2 linked regions of the Homo sapiens genome follow. The protein of the gene in region 1 interacts with the protein of each later gene in a pairwise test. Each region holds a gene or a part of one and is shown in the gene's direction. Other genes may lie near its edges.

The links. The genes of interacting proteins can lie anywhere in the genome.
Region 2: the proteins of RABGEF1 (region 1) and ANKRD29 interact in binary tests that used the Homo sapiens proteins (3 or more experiments, as listed by UniProt).

Annotation. Positions count from the first base shown.
Region 1 is NC_000007.14:66,743,693-66,747,441, forward strand, and holds part of RABGEF1 (rab5 GDP/GTP exchange factor), read left to right. Parts: intron 1-3,749. UniProt on the Homo sapiens protein: Rab effector protein acting as linker between gamma-adaptin, RAB4A or RAB5A. Involved in endocytic membrane fusion and membrane trafficking of recycling endosomes. Stimulates nucleotide exchange on RAB5A. Can act as a ubiquitin ligase.
Region 2 is NC_000018.10:23,661,074-23,664,822, reverse strand, and holds the start of ANKRD29 (ankyrin repeat domain-containing protein 29), read left to right. Parts: upstream 1-1,911; 5' UTR 1,912-2,092; coding exon 2,093-2,113; intron 2,114-3,749.

The DNA of each region.
Region 1 (3,749 bases):
TGGTTTCACTGTGTCAGCCAGGATGGTCTCAATCTCCTGACCTCGTGATCCGCCCTCCTCGGCATTCCAAAGTGCTGGGATTACAGGTGTGAGCCACCACACTTGGGCTAAATTTTTTTGTAGAGATGGAATCCTTGTATGTTTCCCAGGGTGCTCTCCAACCCCTGGCCTCAAGTGATTCTCTAGCCTCGGCCTCCCAAAGTGTTGGGATTACAAACATGAGCCACTGCACCCGGCCCTAAAATGGAATTTTATGTAACTCTTACACACAGGCTGCTATGTAGCTGATAAGGATAAATGTTTTCAGTGTAGTGCTTGATTATTTGCTTTTTTCTTTTCTTTTCTTTTCTTTTTTTTTTTTTTAAGACGGAGTCTTGATCTGTGACTGGGCTGGAGTGCAGTGGCATGATCTTGGCCACTGCAACCTCTGCCTCCTGGATTCAAGCGATTTGTGTGCCTCAGCCTTCTGAGTAGCTGGGACTGACCATAGATAGGCGCGCGCCACCACGCCCAGCTAATTACTGCTATCTTGTATTTTAATTTTTTCTGCTTATTAGATGTTTGAAATGGTGGCTCACGCCTGTAATCCTCGCACTTTGGGAGGCCAAAGTGGGAGGATTGCTTGAGGTCAGGGGTTGGAGACCAGCCTGGGCAAAATAGCAAGACTGCATCTCTACAAAAAAAAAAAAAAGATAGCCGGGCGCAGTGGCTCACGCCTGTAATCCCAGTACTTTGGGAGGCTGAGGCAGGCGGATCACGAGGTCAGGAGATCAAGACCATCCTGGCTAACACGGTGAAACCCTGTCTCTACTAAAAATACAAAAAATTAGCTGGGCATGGTGGCAGGCGCCTGTAGTCCCAGCTACTCGGGAGGCTGAGGCAGGAGAATGGCGTGAACCTGGGAGGTGGAACTTGCAGTGAGCCGAGATGGCGCCACTGCACTCCAGCCTGGGCGACAGAGCCAGACTCCGTCTCAAAAAAAAAAAAAAAAAAAAGATGCTTGACGTGAATGTATACTCATTTCCTAGTTGTTTCTTTCTATAAGGATGTCTGACCTGGCTAATTTGTAAACAGGAATTCTGCATTCATTTCTCTCTTTGCTTTCTCAACCCCAATTGAGCACACAAGTGTTTAATGAGTACTTAACTGATTTGATAAGAATAACTCATTGATTTCTTTGATTTTTTGTTGCTGGTTTTCAGTGAAAAAAATGTTATCAGCCGCACACGGTGGCTCACGCCTGTAATCCCAGCACTTTGGGAAGCTGAGGCGGGTGGATCATGAGGTCACGAGATCCAGACCATCCTGGCTAACATGGTAAAACCCCATCTCTAATAAAAATACAAAAAATTAGCCGGGCATGGTTGCAGGCGCCTGTAGTCTCAGTTACTCAGGAGGCTGAGGCAGGAGAATGGCGTGAACCCGGGAGGCGGAGCTTGCAGTGAGCCGAGATTGTGCCACTGCACTCCAGCCTGAGCGACAGAGCGAGACTCCATCTCAAAAAAAAAAAAAATGATATCAGTACTTACTCATTGTGATGTCTACATATAGAACTAAAATTCTGTTTACTTATGTGAGTCTTTGGCTAGAGACATAGAATTTCAGTCTTGACTGTGTGAGCTTAATTTCTGGCATGTGGGTTTTTATTGGCTGCAGAGGAAACATCTCTAGCAGAGATGACCTATCCCTCAAATGTAGGAAATACCTGTGTAAACCTAACACCTGTGACTCAGAATAGAAATGGTACCAAGTGAGTGGCTTCTTAGCCCATCAGTAAAGTTATCACACCATAGGCTGGGTGCGGTGGCTCACACCTGTAATCCCAACACTTTGGGAGGCTGAGGTGGGCAGATCACTTAAGGCCAGGAGTTTGAGACCAGCCTGGATCAAGATGGCAAAACTCCGTCTCTACTAAAATGCAAAAAACTTAGCCAGGCATGGTGATGTGCGCCTGTGATCTCAGCTACTCGGGAGTCTGAGGCACAAGAATCTCTTGATCCCGGGAGGCGGAAATTGCAATGAGCCGAGATTGTGCCACTGCACTCCAGCTTGGGCAACAGAGTGAGACTCTATCTCAAAAAAAAAAAAAAAAAAGTGATCACACTAAAACCAAGAGTTTCAGGCTGGTGCAGTGGCTCATGCCTATAATACCAGTGCTTTGGGAGGCCAAAGTGGGAGAATCGCTTGAGCCTAGGAGTTCCAGGCTGCAGTGAGCTGTGATCAAGCCACTGCACTACAGCCTGAGTGACAGAGTGATACCCTGTCTCTATAAAAAGAAGTTTCATAGTACAGGCCAAACATCTTGAAAATCTTATTAAATGTACACTTCTTTCATAGAGCACTGTAGAAACATCATGTGTGTTGTTTCACATGGCTGAAGTGAGTTTAAATGATCTGGACTATTGTTACAATATGTAAACATGTGAAATAACAGTTATCCCACTTAATATTATTTAACTTATGTTTATCTCTTTGATGTTTGGATAAAGCTCCTAAAATGCTTTAGGAAAACATTATACTTTTATGGTGCTGTTTTGAAGTTTCCTGTGAAATTCCTGTTTTCAATGAAGTTACTGTCAGTGGGATAGGAAGTGTGATTTTTTTTTTTTACTTTTCTTTTTTTCTTTTTGAGACGGAGTCTTGCTCTGTTGCCCAGGCTGGAGTGCAGTGGCGCGATCTTGGCTCACTGCAACCTCTGCTTCCTGGGTTCAAGGATTCTTCTGCCTCAGCCTCCCGAGTAGTTAACCACCATACCCAGCTAATTTTTTTTGTATTTTTAGTAGAGACGGGGTTTCACCATATTGGCCAGGCTGATCTCGAACTCCTGACCTCGTGATCCACCCGCCTCGGCCTCCCAAAGTGCTGCGATTACAGGCGTGAGCCACCGTGCCCGGCAGGAAGTGCAATTTTTATTTATAATATAACCTTTTTTTTTTTTTTTTTTTTTTGAGAACAGAGTCTTGCTCTGTCACCCAGGCTGGAGTGTGGTGGCACGATCTCTACTCACTGCAACTTCCACCTCCCCGGTTCAAGCGATTCTTGTGCCTCAGCCACCTGAGTAGCTGGGAATATGGGCTCCTGCCACCACGTCCGGCTAATTTTTTTTTTTGCTGGAGTGAGACTGAGTTTCAGCCTTGTTGCCCAGGCTGGAGTGCAATAGTGCGATCTTGGCTTACTACAACCTCTGCCTCCTGGGTTCAAGTGATTCTCCTGCCTCAGCTTCCCAAGTAGCTGGTGTTAACAGGCACGCGCCACCATGCTGAGCTAATTTTTTTATTTTTAGTAGAGACGGGGTTTCACCATGTTGGCCAGGCTGGTCTCGAATTTCTGACCTCAGGTGATCCACCTGCCTTGGCCTCCCAAAGTGCTGGGATTACAGGTGTGAGCTACCGTGCCCGGCCCTAGTGGAACATTTTAATTTGTTTCTGGTAGCATAGCTCTCTTGGCAATGGTCATTAAGAGGGCCAAATACCATTATTATGATCAATTAATTAAATGTGGTTAAAAGTCAGAAGTTAGAATAAGTATGTGTTCATGAATGCGTAAAATATTACACACTGAGAGAGTATTAAGCTTTTTAATTTTCCCCCAGTAACAGTGAGCAGATTGCTGAAATCTCTGAAGCAGGAATGTAACAAGAGTTTTGAGGGCTCTAAATTCTCTGCTGTTTCACCCTAAGGAATGGTTTGGCAGCATCCTCTATGCTAGGCACAGAACAACTCAGGAGGAATTGTACAAAGACCTTATGA
Region 2 (3,749 bases), on another chromosome or scaffold:
GACAAACACCTAGCCCTATCACTTATTAGCAAATTACTCCAATCTCTCAGAATCTTAGTTTTTTCATCCGTGGAATGGGTTAATACTCACCCCATAAAATGTTTATAAGGAAAGCACCTTGTACCTAGAAAACACTCAAAATATTAGTTCTTTCCTTTCTCCCTTTTATTTATCAAAACTATTAAAGCAGACCAGGCGCGGTGGCTCACGTTTGTAATCCTAGCACCTTGGGAGGCCGAACCAGGTGGATCACCTGAGGTCAGTAGTTCGAGACCAGCCTGGCCAACATGGCGAAACCCTGTCTCTACTAAAAATACAAAAATTAGCTGGGCACGGTGACAGGAGCCTATAATACCAGCTACTCGAGAGGCTGAGGCAGGAGAATTGCTTGAACCCGGGGGGTGGAGGTTGCAGTGAGCCAGGATCATGCCACTTCACTTCAGCCTGGGCAAAAGAGCGAAACTCCATCTGAGAAGAAAAAACAAACAAACAAACAAAAAACTATTAAAGCAAAACCTCTGATGCTTGATTTTTATATAATAACGTTGTGTGGCAACTTAAAAACTGTGTCATTTATAGGCACTCAAGGCAAGGAAAATGTTTAGAGTCCTTATTTTTAAAATTGGAATTTTCTATAAAAGTTCAGAATGTTTTTAATTTAAAGTTGTTTTAAGCACAAAGTAATACAATTTATCCATGAAGGTTAAACATTTTAATTTTTATCATTAACTTTTATTTGTAATTGTTTTCTACCTTTTAAATTAAATATTCGTTACAAATTTAATTGAGAAGAGGGAAGGAGGGGGAGAATGAATGAGTGGATTCTTATAGTTTGAGGGGGTAAGACCTCCATTTTTATACTATTTTTTTGTTTTGTTTTTATTTTTATTTTTGAGGCAGAGTCTTGCTCTGTTGCCCAGGCTGGAGTGCAGTGACCGAATCTTGGCTCACTGCAGCCTCAACCTCCCAGGTTCAAGCGATCCTCCCACCTCAGCCTCCCGAGTAGCTGGGACTACAGGTGCGCACCACCACGCCTGGCTAATTTTTGTATTTTTAGTAGAGATAGAGTTTTGCCATGTTGGCCAGTCTGATCTCGAACTCCTGGACTCAAGTGATCTGCCCGCCTTTGGCCTCCCAAAGAGTTGGGATTATAGGCGTGAGCCACTATGCCTGGGCTACTTTTTTACTTTCACTTTTCTAAAATGCTCTCAAAGAGCTGTTGTTGCCGTTTATACTTAAAACTCCCAGTTTTACTTCGCCCAAACCAATCCTGGGCAGGCAGCAGGAGTGGACACACATACTGCAATACTCCAGGGCTGCAGCATCAGACCCAGAGGAGGAGGGAACTGCTGGATTAATAACGCGGAGGAGGAGGAGGGGTATGAGTCTATTCCAAAATTGGCCTTTGCCCTTCAAAGAGGAAAAGACCACTTATTGTTTGTGCAATCAAAAGGTTTGTTTCCTAGATATTTTCCCCAGGAGAAAAAAGTTTCCCAGGAAACCGAGAAAGAAATTATAACGAAAATAGCTATTGGATGAATTTTTTCCTCAAGCTTCATTTTTACATCATTATAATATTTGTGCTGTAATGAAGGTTGGGAGTCCTCTGGGGCAGACCAGTCTATTTGGGAGGATATGTATGGAGTTTGTGTGTGAGTACATGCGGGTGAGTGGGCGTGAGTGTGGAAAGTATGTGTGTGGAACCTCTGTGTGTGTGGAATGTGGAGCGTATGCACAATGTGTGTGGAGTTTGGAGTGTGTGTGTGGACGAGTGAGTGTGGAAGTGTGGACGTGTGTGGAAAGTGCACAGTGCGTGCGGAGTTTGGGGTGTTTGTGCACGCGCGTGTGTGGCAGGTCCTGGAGCGCGTCCACGCGACACCCCATGTGTAGTGTGCGCGCGCGCGCGCCCCCGCGCCGCCCCTTCGGCCCGGCCCTGTGTGCGGCGGCTGCTGCCGGGCCGGGCGGCGGGAGCGCGCGGCGTCGGAGGCCGCCCCTCTGCGGAACGCCGAGAGCCCCGGGAGAGTGAAGGGCCGGGGAGGACAAGGCGCCCCGGGCCCAAAGCGCGCCGGCTCCCGCTCGGGCGGCCGCGGACATGTGCAGGATGTCCTTCAAGGTGAGCGACCGGGACTCCGGGGTCAGGGCTGGGGCCGGGCTCGGGCGGCCGGGCCCGCGGGGTCGGGTGGGGTGGGATGGGGTGGGATGGGGTGGGCGCTGCCCGCTGCCCGCCGCCTCCTCCTTCCTCTCTCCTCCAGCTGCGGGCGAGGCCCGGGAGGAAGCGGCGGGGCTGGGTGCGCCCTGTGGGTTTGCGGTTTGCCTGCCTGCCCTGCCTGAGAGGCTTCGCACTCATGGCTGTGGATCGGCTGAGTCTGTGCCCGGCGACGGGGCGGCGGGGACTGTCGCCGGGTAACAGGTCGGGGGCGGGTAAGAAGCCTGGGGTCAGCGCTGTCCTGCAGCAGAAGGAGTCCCCGACCCTGACCCTCTGGGTCCTCATGCAGGAGTACCAGCTGCACCCACGGATGCCTCCTCCCCGGAGGGGTGGCCAGCACCCAGGGAGGCTTCAGGGTCCAAAGGTGTCTTGTCTCAAAAGAGTTGATTAAAGTCATTCCATCTAATCCCCACATTTTAGGATGAAAGAGGTTGATTTGCCTCGATTGAAAGGGTTTAATAAAAATAGCAGTTAAAATGTATTAAACAGTTCAAATGTGCCTGACTCTGAACCAAGGACATGGTGTGTATGGTCTCAACCCTGGGGGAGACCTGTGGGAGGTGCTCTTCGTGGCTCTTTTTTTTTTTTTTTTCAAATGAGAAAACTAAGATATAGAGAAATTAACTCACCCACGGTTTTGCAGCCAATAAGTTATGGTGTTAAGACTGAAACCCAAGTGTGTCTGACTCCTAAGCCACTGTAATCCCGTTGCCGACAATAGCTCATGTAAGCAGAGGAGTGACATGGCGAGATGTGCATGTTGCAAAGATCTCTGGCTAGGTTTGGAGAAGAGGGTTGGAGCTGGAAGATGTTGTCATCTTTTTAAGAAATGGTACTGGACCAGTGCATAGGTGGTGAGAATGGAACGAAGCAGACGAATGTGAATGACTTTAAAGTTTTTTTTCCTGAGACGGAGTTTTGCTCTTGTTGCCCAGGCTGGAGTGCAATGGTGTGATCTCAGCTCACTGCAACTTCCGCCTCCCGGGTTCAAGCTATTTCTCCTTCCTTACCCTCCAGAGTAGCTGGGATTACAGGCGTGCGCCACCATGCCCAGCTAATTTTTTCGTATTTTTAGTAGAGACGGGGTTCTGCCATGTTGGCGAGGCTGGTCTCGAACTCCTGACCTCAGGTGATCCACCCTCCTTGGCCTCCCAAAGTGCTGGGGTTAAAGGCGTGAGCCACTACGCCCGGCCGACTTTAAAAGTTTTAAATCGGCATAATTCAGTAGGGAAGGCAAGAGAGATAAAGATAAAACGTTTGGTTTGGGATAAATTTTGAGGATAGATGGGAATCCAAGCAGAGATGTTGATTAGACAGATATACTCTCCTCGATCCCAGGAGGCAAGTCTGGGCAGCAGCTAGAGATGAGATTTAGGAGTCAGCAGTGTTAAGTAGGCACCCATGGGAATGAACATGATTGCCCAGTGGAACCATATAAAGGTGGAAAATAAGAGGACTGAGGACAAAATCTTGAAGAAGATTTGAGAAAGAGCAGCCAGAGACGAATGAGAAAACTCAGAAGCATGTGCTGTCACTTACACCA